Homo sapiens: one gene and its partner. The protein of the gene in region 1 interacts with the protein of each later gene in a biochemical or structural test. Each region holds a gene or a part of one and is shown in the gene's direction. Other genes may lie near its edges.

What was found. The genes of interacting proteins can lie anywhere in the genome.
Region 2: the proteins of XRCC1 (region 1) and TOPORS interact in far-western blotting, tested with the Homo sapiens proteins (one study listed by BioGRID).

What each region holds. Positions count from the first base shown.
Region 1 is NC_000019.10:43,553,875-43,559,304, reverse strand, and holds part of XRCC1 (DNA repair protein XRCC1), read left to right. Parts: intron 1-4,500; coding exon 4,501-4,659; intron 4,660-5,430. UniProt on the Homo sapiens protein: Scaffold protein involved in DNA single-strand break repair by mediating the assembly of DNA break repair protein complexes. Negatively regulates ADP-ribosyltransferase activity of PARP1 during base-excision repair in order to prevent excessive PARP1 activity.
Region 2 is NC_000009.12:32,542,587-32,547,050, reverse strand, and holds part of TOPORS (E3 ubiquitin-protein ligase Topors), read left to right. Parts: intron 1-2,724; coding exon 2,725-4,464. UniProt on the Homo sapiens protein: Functions as an E3 ubiquitin-protein ligase and as an E3 SUMO1-protein ligase. Probable tumor suppressor involved in cell growth, cell proliferation and apoptosis that regulates p53/TP53 stability through ubiquitin-dependent degradation.

The sequences.
Region 1 (5,430 bases):
TCACTGTGTTAGCCAGGATGGTCTCGATCTCCTGACCTTGTGATCTGCCCACCTTAGCCTCCCAAAGTGCTGGGATTACAGGTGTGAGCCACCGCACCCGGCCCTTTTCTGTATCTTTTTTATATGTTTGTTGACAATGCTTATTTATTTATTTTATTTATTTTAAGACAGAGTCTCACTCTGTTGGCCAGGCTGGAGTGCAGTGGCATGATCTTGGCTCACTGCAACCTCCGCTTCCCAGACTCAAGGGATTCTCCAGCCTCAGCCTCCTGAGTAGCTGGGACTATAGGTGTGAGCCGCCATACCCGGCTAATTTTTTAAAAAATTTTTTGTAGAAATGGGGTTTCACTACATTGCCTGGCTGGTCTTGAACTCCTGAGCTTAAAGTGATCCTCCCACCTTGGCCTCCCAAAGTATTGGGATTACAGACCTGAGCCACTGCACCTGGCTGAAAATACTTTGAAAAAAAAAAAAAGACTTGCCTTTTCTCATTGAATCATTTTGACTCCTTGTTGAGAATTAATTAACCATATGTATGGGTTTATTTCTGTACTCTCTTCTCTGTTCCATTGATATGTATAGTTTTCTTTATGCCAATACCAAACTGTCTCTTTTTTTAACCATATTATTTATTTATGTATATATGTATTTATTTATTTATTTATTTATTTATTTGAGATGGGGGTCTCACTCTGTTGCTCAGGTTGGAGTACAGTGGCATGATCTCAGCTCACTGCAACCTCTGCCTCCTGGGCTCAAGTGATCCTCCCGCCTCAGCCCCCCAAGTAGCTAGTGGGAGCCATCATGCCCGGCTAATTTTTAAATATTTTTTGTAGAAATAGGGTTTCACTGTGTTGCCCAGGCTGGTCTTGAACTCCTGAGGTCAGGTGATCCACCTGCTGCGGCCTCCCAAAGTGCTAGGATTACACATGTGAGCTGCTGTGTGTACCTGGCCTACTCTTTTTTTTTTGAAACGAGGTCTCACTTTGTCACCCAGGCTGGAGTGCAGTGGCACGATCTCAGCTCACTGCAGCCTTGTCCTCCCGGGTTCAAGTGATCCTCCTTCCACAGCCCCTCAAGTAGCTGGGACTACAGGCTTGCACCACCATGCCCAACTTTGCACTAGTCAGTGTGACAAGGTGAGAAAAAGAAAAAAGAAAACTATCTTTTTTCACAGATGGCATGATTGTCTATGCAGAAAATCCCAAGAGATCTAGACAAACTACAAGGTTTAGTAAGTGAAGGTCACAAGATGAGAAGTCAATATACAAAATAAACTGTATATTACACATCACTTCTGTGGTATTCTGGCCAAAGTGTGCAACCTAAATTAATCACAAGGAAACATCAGATACTTTGTACAATAAGTGATATCTGACAAAAATCACTGACCTCTACTCTTCAAAAACATCAAAGGCACAAACCCAAAGTCACAGGAGCCTTCCTTCCTTCCATTCTCCCTCCCCTCCTTCCCTCCCTCCTTCCTTTTTTTTTTTTTTTTTTTTTTTTTTTGAGATGGAATTTTGCTCCTGTTGCCCAGGCTGGAGTGCAGTGGTGCAATCTCGGTTCACTGCAACCTCCGCCTCCCAGGTACAAACGATTCTCCATCTTAGCCTCCCAAGTAGCTCGGATTACAGGCCTGTGCCACCATGCATGGCTATTTTTTTTGTATTTAGTAGGACAGGGTTTTCCCATGTTAGTCACCAGATGATAAATGCAGCTTCCCTGTCAGCTCCAAATCAGGCCTTTTATAAACAAGTATAGTCAAGGTCAGGAAGAAAACTTCCCTTCTGTATAATTGTCTTTCTTGTTTCCTTTGCATAATCAGCTGTGCACAAAGAGAGCTATAGTTATGTTCTGTTTTTCTCAGCAAAAGGCTTTATTGTCCAATTTTATAATTTCACAGCATGTCAGTTAGAAAAGAGACTAAGTCAGTAACAAAATATACCCAACCAAAAGTGGCTGCATTCATCTTTTTTTTTTTTTTTTTTTTTTTTGAGACGGAGTCTCGCTCTATTGCCAGGCTGGAGTGCAGTGGCGCAATCTTGGCTCACTGCAACCTCCGCCTCCTGGGTTCAAGTGATTCTCCTGCCTCAGCCTCCCGAGTAGCTGGGACTACAGGCACGCGCCACCATGCCCAGCTAATTTTTTTGTATTTTTAGTAGAGATGGGGTTTCACTATGTTGGCCAGGATGGTCTCGATCTCCTGACCTCGTGATTTGCCTGCTTTGGCCTCCCAAAGTGCTGGGATTACAGGTGTGAGCCACTGTGCCCAGTCTTTTTGTTTCGTTTTTTGTTTTTTGGCAGAGTCTTGCTCCGTCACCCAGGCTGGAATGCAGTGGCACAATCTCGGCTCACCATCACCTCCAACTCCTGGGTTCAAGCGATTCTTGTGCCTCAGCCTCTCGAGTAGCTGGGATTATAGGTGCCTACCACCATGTCCAGCTAATTTTTGTATTTTTAGTAAAGACGGTGTTTCACCATGTTGGCTAGGCTGGTCTTGAACTCCTGGCCTCTTGTCCACCAGGCTTAAGTGCAATGGTGCGATCTCAGCTCACTGCAACCTCCGCCTCCTGGGTTCAAGCAATTCTCGTGCCTCAGCCTCCCGAGTAGCTGGGACAACAGGCGTCTGCCACCATGCCTGGCTTAAATTTTGTATTTTTAGTAGAGATGGGGTTTTACCATGTTGGCCAGGCTGGTATTGAACTCCTAACCTCAAATGATCCGCCTGCCTTGGCCTCCCAAAGTGCTGGGATTACAGGCGTGAGCCACCGCGCCTGGCCTCAGCTTGGGTTTTTCAATGCAGATTGCTAACATGAATTGCTACTCTCAATTCCTTGAGAGAACAGACTTGTGAGGAGTTCTCCCGAGAAGAATTTTCACCTCTTCTTTGGTGTCCCCCCAAGCTAAGGCCAAGACAGACAGGCCTCCCAGGGACTCTTTCCACAGGCTTATTTCCCCTTCATGTAACTAGTGTGGGCGTTGCCTTTGGGGAGTCCTCAGTTCTATGCAGTGTGGTGAGGATCTCTGAGATGCCACTCTCCCTTGCTTGGAGCCTAGGTTTTCTCTCTTGTTCTCTTTCACCACCACGTGCATAACCCTTAAAGATCAAGTTCTAGCTGGGTGTGGTGGCTTACACTTGTACTTCTATAGCTTTGGGAGGCTGAGGTGAGAGGATCATTTGAGGCCAGGAGTTCAGGACCAGCCTGGGCAACATAGCAAGACCATGCCTCTACAAAAAATAAAAAATTAGCCAGGTGTGGTGTCGTGCATCTCTAGACCCAGCTACTCAGAGGCCAAGGTGGGAGAATCACTTGAGACCCAGAGGTCGAGGCTGCAGTGAGCTATGATCGCACCACTGTGCTCCAGCCTGGGTGACAGAGAAAGACCCTGTCTCTTAAAAAAATAATAATAATAAATAAAATCAAGTTATTTGCTATCTGGGATCAGCACCATGACAAACTACCAACATGAGTGCTGCCGGGTCAGTCAGGGTCCTTGCCCGGAGATTAAAACCACACCAGTTATTTTAACAGATAATTTGATAGAAAGAACCAGTAACTAGGTGTTACTAGAAGACTAAGATATGAGGGAGAAGCAACCGCAGGGAGTAGCTACCACTCCCAGGGTTGGGGGAACAAAAGAAAGGAGCAGGAATTATTGAAACGTAGATGTTTGGAAACTGGGAGGTGGGGCTCCAGGAGCTGAAATTCAGATCGTTTGAGGAGGGCTTCCTCCCCCACCGGCTGCTGAGAGGGGCTGAATGAGGCTGTTTCTGGAGGTATTGGGACACTGCAAACTGGATTCATCTGCTGCTGCAGGCAGGAACCACTGCAGCAGCAGAAGCTTAACTGGGGGTGATGCTCACAGGATCTGCAATGCACGAGAAGCTGGTCCTTCCTCCCTCCTGCAGCCTTGCAAACTCTCTCTCTTGCCCCCCCTATTGGCAGAGCCTGGTCACGATCAGCTAGGGAAGCAGAAAGGTGGTTTGCCAAGTGCGGGCCCAGATCACAGAGATGAGTTGTAGAGGGTAGGTTTGAGCTGAGAAACAATCACTTAATACTTAGTGCAGCTCGCCTGACTCTCTGGATTCTGTTTTCTCATTTCCAGCCTCTAGTAATTCCCCTTGCCTTTCCGCTGACTCACCTGTGCATTTCCAAAAGGTGTTTGAATATTGTGCCAGTTTACTGAATATTCTCTGCCGGGAAAGTTCCTTAGGACATGTAGCCCGCTGTATTGCCAGATATGGAAGACTCCATGGGAGAATTTAGATAAGGGTCGCTCACATCTGGAGGATAAAGAGATCCCTCTGGGGCCTGTGTCAGGGCAGGACTGACTCAAGGCCTAGAAACAAAGGGTCTGGAGACATCTAGGCCCAAGCTACATTCTAGTGACTCCCAGTCCCCTGTGTGGGCCCTGTGCCCTCTTCCCCAGCCCCTAGAAGCTCTCATCTAAGCCAACCTGCCCTGGTTCTCATGCACTGTGGCTTCTCCCACCCAGGTCCTTCTGGTCACCTCATCTTTCATGTCCCCTTCCGAGAGCCGCAGTGGCTCAAACCCCAACCGCGTTCGCATGTTTGGGCCTGACAAGCTGGTCCGGGCAGCCGCCGAGAAGCGCTGGGACCGGGTCAAAATTGTTTGCAGCCAGCCCTACAGCAAGGTACCTAGGGTGGGAGCCAGGGTGCAGAGTCCTTGGTCCTGGGCAAGGAGGGAAATAAGGGCCAATATTGAGTCCCATAGGGCTGGGAGGAGTAGACAGCTGGTGTCCCATGGGATTATGGGGAGGCTGGGTCCCTGCGTTCCCTGAAATGGGTTTGGGATCTTTCCTGTAATGAGAAGTTTCATCTCCCGGAGGAATCTAGGAAGGGTGAACTGCAGCATCTCAGAGGGGAATCGGAGGAGGGGAACTGACTTGTTAGAGAGGTGGCCTAGTAGAGTGGGCCTAGTAGTTAACATCAGGAGATCTGGCGTCTGATTACTGAGTTCACGTCCTGGCTATACCACTTTTTAGCTGTGTGATCTTGGGCAAGTGACTTACGCTCTCTGGGCCTCCATTGCCTGATCCTTACAGGGTTGCTGTAGGTTAAGGGATGCTAAAAGCTGTGGTAACAGTGAGACTGGAGTATGTGATGATGCCACACACTAAAGGTGTGCTTCTTGCCCAGGTAACTGTCCTGGGGAGTGTTTAGCCTGTCAGCTGGCTTCTCCTTATGAGGTCGTGCAGGGACCCAGACTTCTCCTATTTTCTGGCTCTGCATCCAGCTGGCAGAGGAGAGAGCCTGGAACACTTCTGTGTTCTGGAAGTGGCACGCAGCACTCCCTCCCATTCCACAGGCAGGAGTTTGTGCATAGGGCAGTGAATTCGCTGGGACACCTAGTAGACTCTGCCAATTGCCCAAAGAGCTAATGCGTGAAAAGGGCTTGGAGCCAG
Region 2 (4,464 bases), on another chromosome or scaffold:
GTTTGTTTGTTTTGAAACAGGGTCTCATTCTGTCACCCAGGCTGGAGTGAGGTGGTGCAATTATGGCTCACTGCAGCCTGGACCTCCCAGGCTCAGTTAATCCTCCTGCCTCAGCCTCCTGAGTAGCTGGGACTACAGGTGTGCCCATCATGCCCGGCTAAGATTATTCTTTTCAGCTAATGATTCCTGTGTAGAAATACAAGAATGAATTCTAATTTATTATTATTTTTTAACCTGTTATGGAGGACATTACCAGTCATTCATTCACCTTTTACTGTCAAAGTGGTTAACAGGCTTATAAAACTAGAGAAGGGAAGGGTAAGGTTTCATTTTTTTAAAAAAATCATACTTTGTTGAGATTTTATTTTATTTGAACTTCAAGTTTACTACCTAATAATTCCCTTTAATAAATTCATTTTCAGCTGTAATTTTTATGTGAACTGGAAGTGTTCAGAAAACACTAAAATTCTATTTCAGAGAACTAAGTGAAGATAAAATGTATTAACTTGGAATTCACGGGTCTTTTTTCCAAGTCCAGTAATCCCTTCATTATATAGAGGAGAAAACTAAAGTCTAGAGTAATGTGGTTTTCTTCACATTAACTAGAGCTAGTTCTAGGTGAAGCCTGGTCTTCAGTCCAGATCTTTTGATAACCTCTTTGATTCCCTCCCAACTTTTCTCTGTTCCTTCCCTCTACCACACACACAGTCTCTGAACTGAAAGGTTTTTATTTTTATGTGTGTGTTTCTTTAAATTTCTTGAGTAGGCAGATTAAAAAATGTTAAAAGTAGAGGGAAATGCTGAGAAGGTTGTGCAGTATTAGGGTTTTAGACTGTTTATGAACAAAAAAGCAGTATTATGTATTTATAATCCTGCTTTTCCAGACCTTCCAGGACAGTGATGATGTTTTTGCATTTTCAGTCCAGTAAATAGAAGACTAGACATACCTGGACCCCTGAAGAAACGCTTATTTAGCATTAATTGATTCTCTATTAAGTTATGGTTCTGAGAAAGCCAAGATGCCCTAAAGTGAGCAGGTTTAATATGAAAGCTATGGTGGAATACTTGTATTTCAGTCATGAGTTTTTGTTGTGGGTTTTGTTTATTGGTTTTTCTTATAGTTTGTTAAGGCCAATGAGTCTATTTAGAAAATTACAATTCTGTTATTTGATTAACTTGACCCCAGTTGACTAGTGATGGAACCTCCTGTGATAAAGGAGGTGGAGGAAGATGAATATTAGGCCCTGGGAAACCAAGGGCCTAGTAGTTTTTTGTTGTTGTTTGTTTATTTGTTTTGAGACAGAGTTTCACTCTTGTCACCCACTGCAATGGTGCAGTCTCAGCTCACTGCAACCTCTGCCTCCTGGGTTCAAGCGATTCTCCTGTCTCAGCCTCCCAAGTAGCTGGGATTACAGGTGCCTGCCACCATGCCCGGCTAATTTTTGTATTCTTAGTAGAGACAAGGTTTCACAACGTTGGCCAGGCTGGTCTTGAACTCCTGACCTCAGGTGATCTGCCTGCCTTGGCCTCCCAAAGTGCTGGATTACAGGCATGAGCCACCGCGCCTGACTCCCCAATAGTCAATATACTCAAAATGATTAGTATAAAATGCAGCTTTGGAGTTTATGAGATAAAGTCAAAACGCATACTAGATTTCAAGCTCTAGCAAAGTTTTGAGCCAATGTAAACTGATAAAACAAACTAATCTTTAATATTCTAGTCATCCTTATGGGAAAGGATAATAGGGAAGGGGACCAAAAACATGATTTCAAGATATTCTGTGGCCTGACTTTTGGATTAAAGAAAAAAGCTAAAGGAAGGCTTATTAGGAATGCTGAATGGAATGAGTGATTAACTGAATATAATAGTGTAGTAATAATAACAGCTGACATTTACTCAGCACCTACTGTGAGCCAGGCACTGCCTCTTGGCTGCTTTTTCATTTATTATTTAATCTTCACTAAAAGTTTCCTCTCCCTTTTTAAAATTAGCTTTCTAAGGTTGAAAAAAGAATCTTTCACTAAAAATCATAGGATTGGTTTAAACAGGTGAACTTTCTGGTATGTAAGTTATGTCACCAAAGTTGTTTTAGAAAAGTACATACAAAATATCACAGATAAATCAGTAGTCTGTATTGTTAGTGGCATATGTATATGAAAGGTATAAAGCCATGCATAGAAATAACATCAACTGAGGAGTGTGGTGTTTTTGTTTTTTGTTTTCTAGAGAGTGATAGGAGGGGAAGATAAGGGGCATAACATAAGTGGTGGATACATGGGTATTTGGTACTTTTTTTTTTTATATGTCAGATATTTCTCAAATTATTTTTAAAAAGAATAATAGAATGTTACATAATATTTGAGAGCTTTACTATGTAGCAGGTGCCTTTTCTAAGGGCTTTTTACATCTTCACAAACCCTGTAAGGCAGATTCTGTTATCACTGACCTGCAGATGAAATTAAAGCACAGAGATACTAACTGGCACATAGTCACGCTGGTAGTGTGGAACCAGGATTCAGTCTTAGGAAATCTGACTTCAGAGCTTATGCTTTAAGCACTATATTACTATGCTACAGTGCCCCTTTATAAAATAAAACAAAAGTAATGGGTCACTTAAGTATTTTCACCAAAATAAGTTTCAAGGTCTTTATTTGCATTTTTGTTGAGACTATTTAGTCATTCCTCTATTATCAGGTTACTGATATATTTCTTTCCCTTTTACAGATAATGGCATCAGCTGCTAAGGAATTTAAAATGGACAACTTTTCACCTAAAGCTGGCACTAGCAAATTGCAACAGACAGTACCAGCTGATGCATCTCCTGATTCTAAGTGTCCTATATGCTTGGATAGATTTGATAATGTGTCTTACTTAGATCGCTGCTTACATAAGTTCTGTTTTCGCTGTGTACAGGAGTGGTCAAAAAACAAAGCTGAATGCCCACTATGTAAACAGCCCTTTGATTCTATTTTCCATTCTGTGAGGGCAGAAGATGACTTCAAGGAGTATGTCCTAAGGCCTTCGTATAATGGTTCTTTTGTCACCCCTGATCGACGATTTCGCTACCGTACAACTCTGACAAGGGAACGAAATGCTTCTGTGTATTCACCTAGTGGTCCTGTGAACAGAAGAACAACAACTCCACCGGATAGTGGAGTACTGTTTGAAGGGTTAGGCATTTCAACAAGACCTAGAGATGTTGAAATTCCTCAGTTTATGAGACAGATTGCAGTAAGGAGGCCAACTACGGCAGATGAAAGATCTTTGCGGAAAATTCAAGAACAAGATATTATTAATTTTAGACGAACTCTTTATCGTGCTGGTGCTCGAGTTAGAAATATTGAAGATGGTGGCCGCTACAGGGATATTTCAGCTGAATTTTTCCGTAGAAATCCAGCTTGCCTTCACAGATTAGTCCCCTGGTTAAAACGTGAACTTACAGTTCTTTTTGGAGCTCATGGATCTTTAGTGAATATTGTCCAGCATATTATCATGAGTAATGTTACTCGCTATGACTTGGAGAGTCAGGCATTTGTGTCTGATTTAAGACCATTTTTACTTAATCGAACTGAGCATTTTATACATGAATTTATCAGTTTTGCCCGATCTCCTTTTAACATGGCAGCCTTTGACCAGCATGCCAATTATGATTGCCCTGCTCCTTCATACGAAGAAGGCAGCCATTCTGATTCTTCAGTCATAACAATATCTCCAGATGAGGCTGAGACCCAAGAGCTGGATATTAATGTAGCCACTGTTAGTCAGGCACCATGGGATGATGAAACTCCAGGACCATCTTACTCAAGCTCAGAGCAGGTACACGTTACTATGTCTTCTCTTTTAAATACTTCTGACAGTTCAGATGAAGAACTTGTCACAGGAGGAGCCACGTCTCAGATACAAGGAGTACAAACCAATGACGACCTAAATAATGACAGTGATGATTCTTCAGATAATTGTGTCATTGTTGGGTTTGTTAAACCACTAGCTGAGAGGACCCCAGAACTTGTTGAACTGTCCTCTGATTCTGAGGACTTAGGTTCTTATGAGAAAATGGAGACAGTGAAGACACAAGAACAGGAGCAATCTTACAGTTCTGGTGATAGCGATGTTAGTAGATGCTCATCTCCACACTCTGTCCTTGGAAAGGATGAACAAATAAATAAAGGTCATTGTGATTCTAGTACAAGAATCAAATCAAAGAAGGAAGAGAAACGATCTACATCATTGTCATCTCCCAGAAACCTGAACTCATCTGTAAGAGGAGACAGAGTATATTCTCCATATAACCATAGACACAGAAAGAGGGGAAGATCAAGAAGTTCAGATTCACGTTCTCAGAGTAGAAGTGGGCATGATCAGAAGAATCATAGAAAGCATCATGGGAAGAAAAGAATGAAAAGTAAACGATCCAGAAGCAGGGAAAGTAGCAGACCTAGAGGGAGAAGAGACAAAAAGAGATCA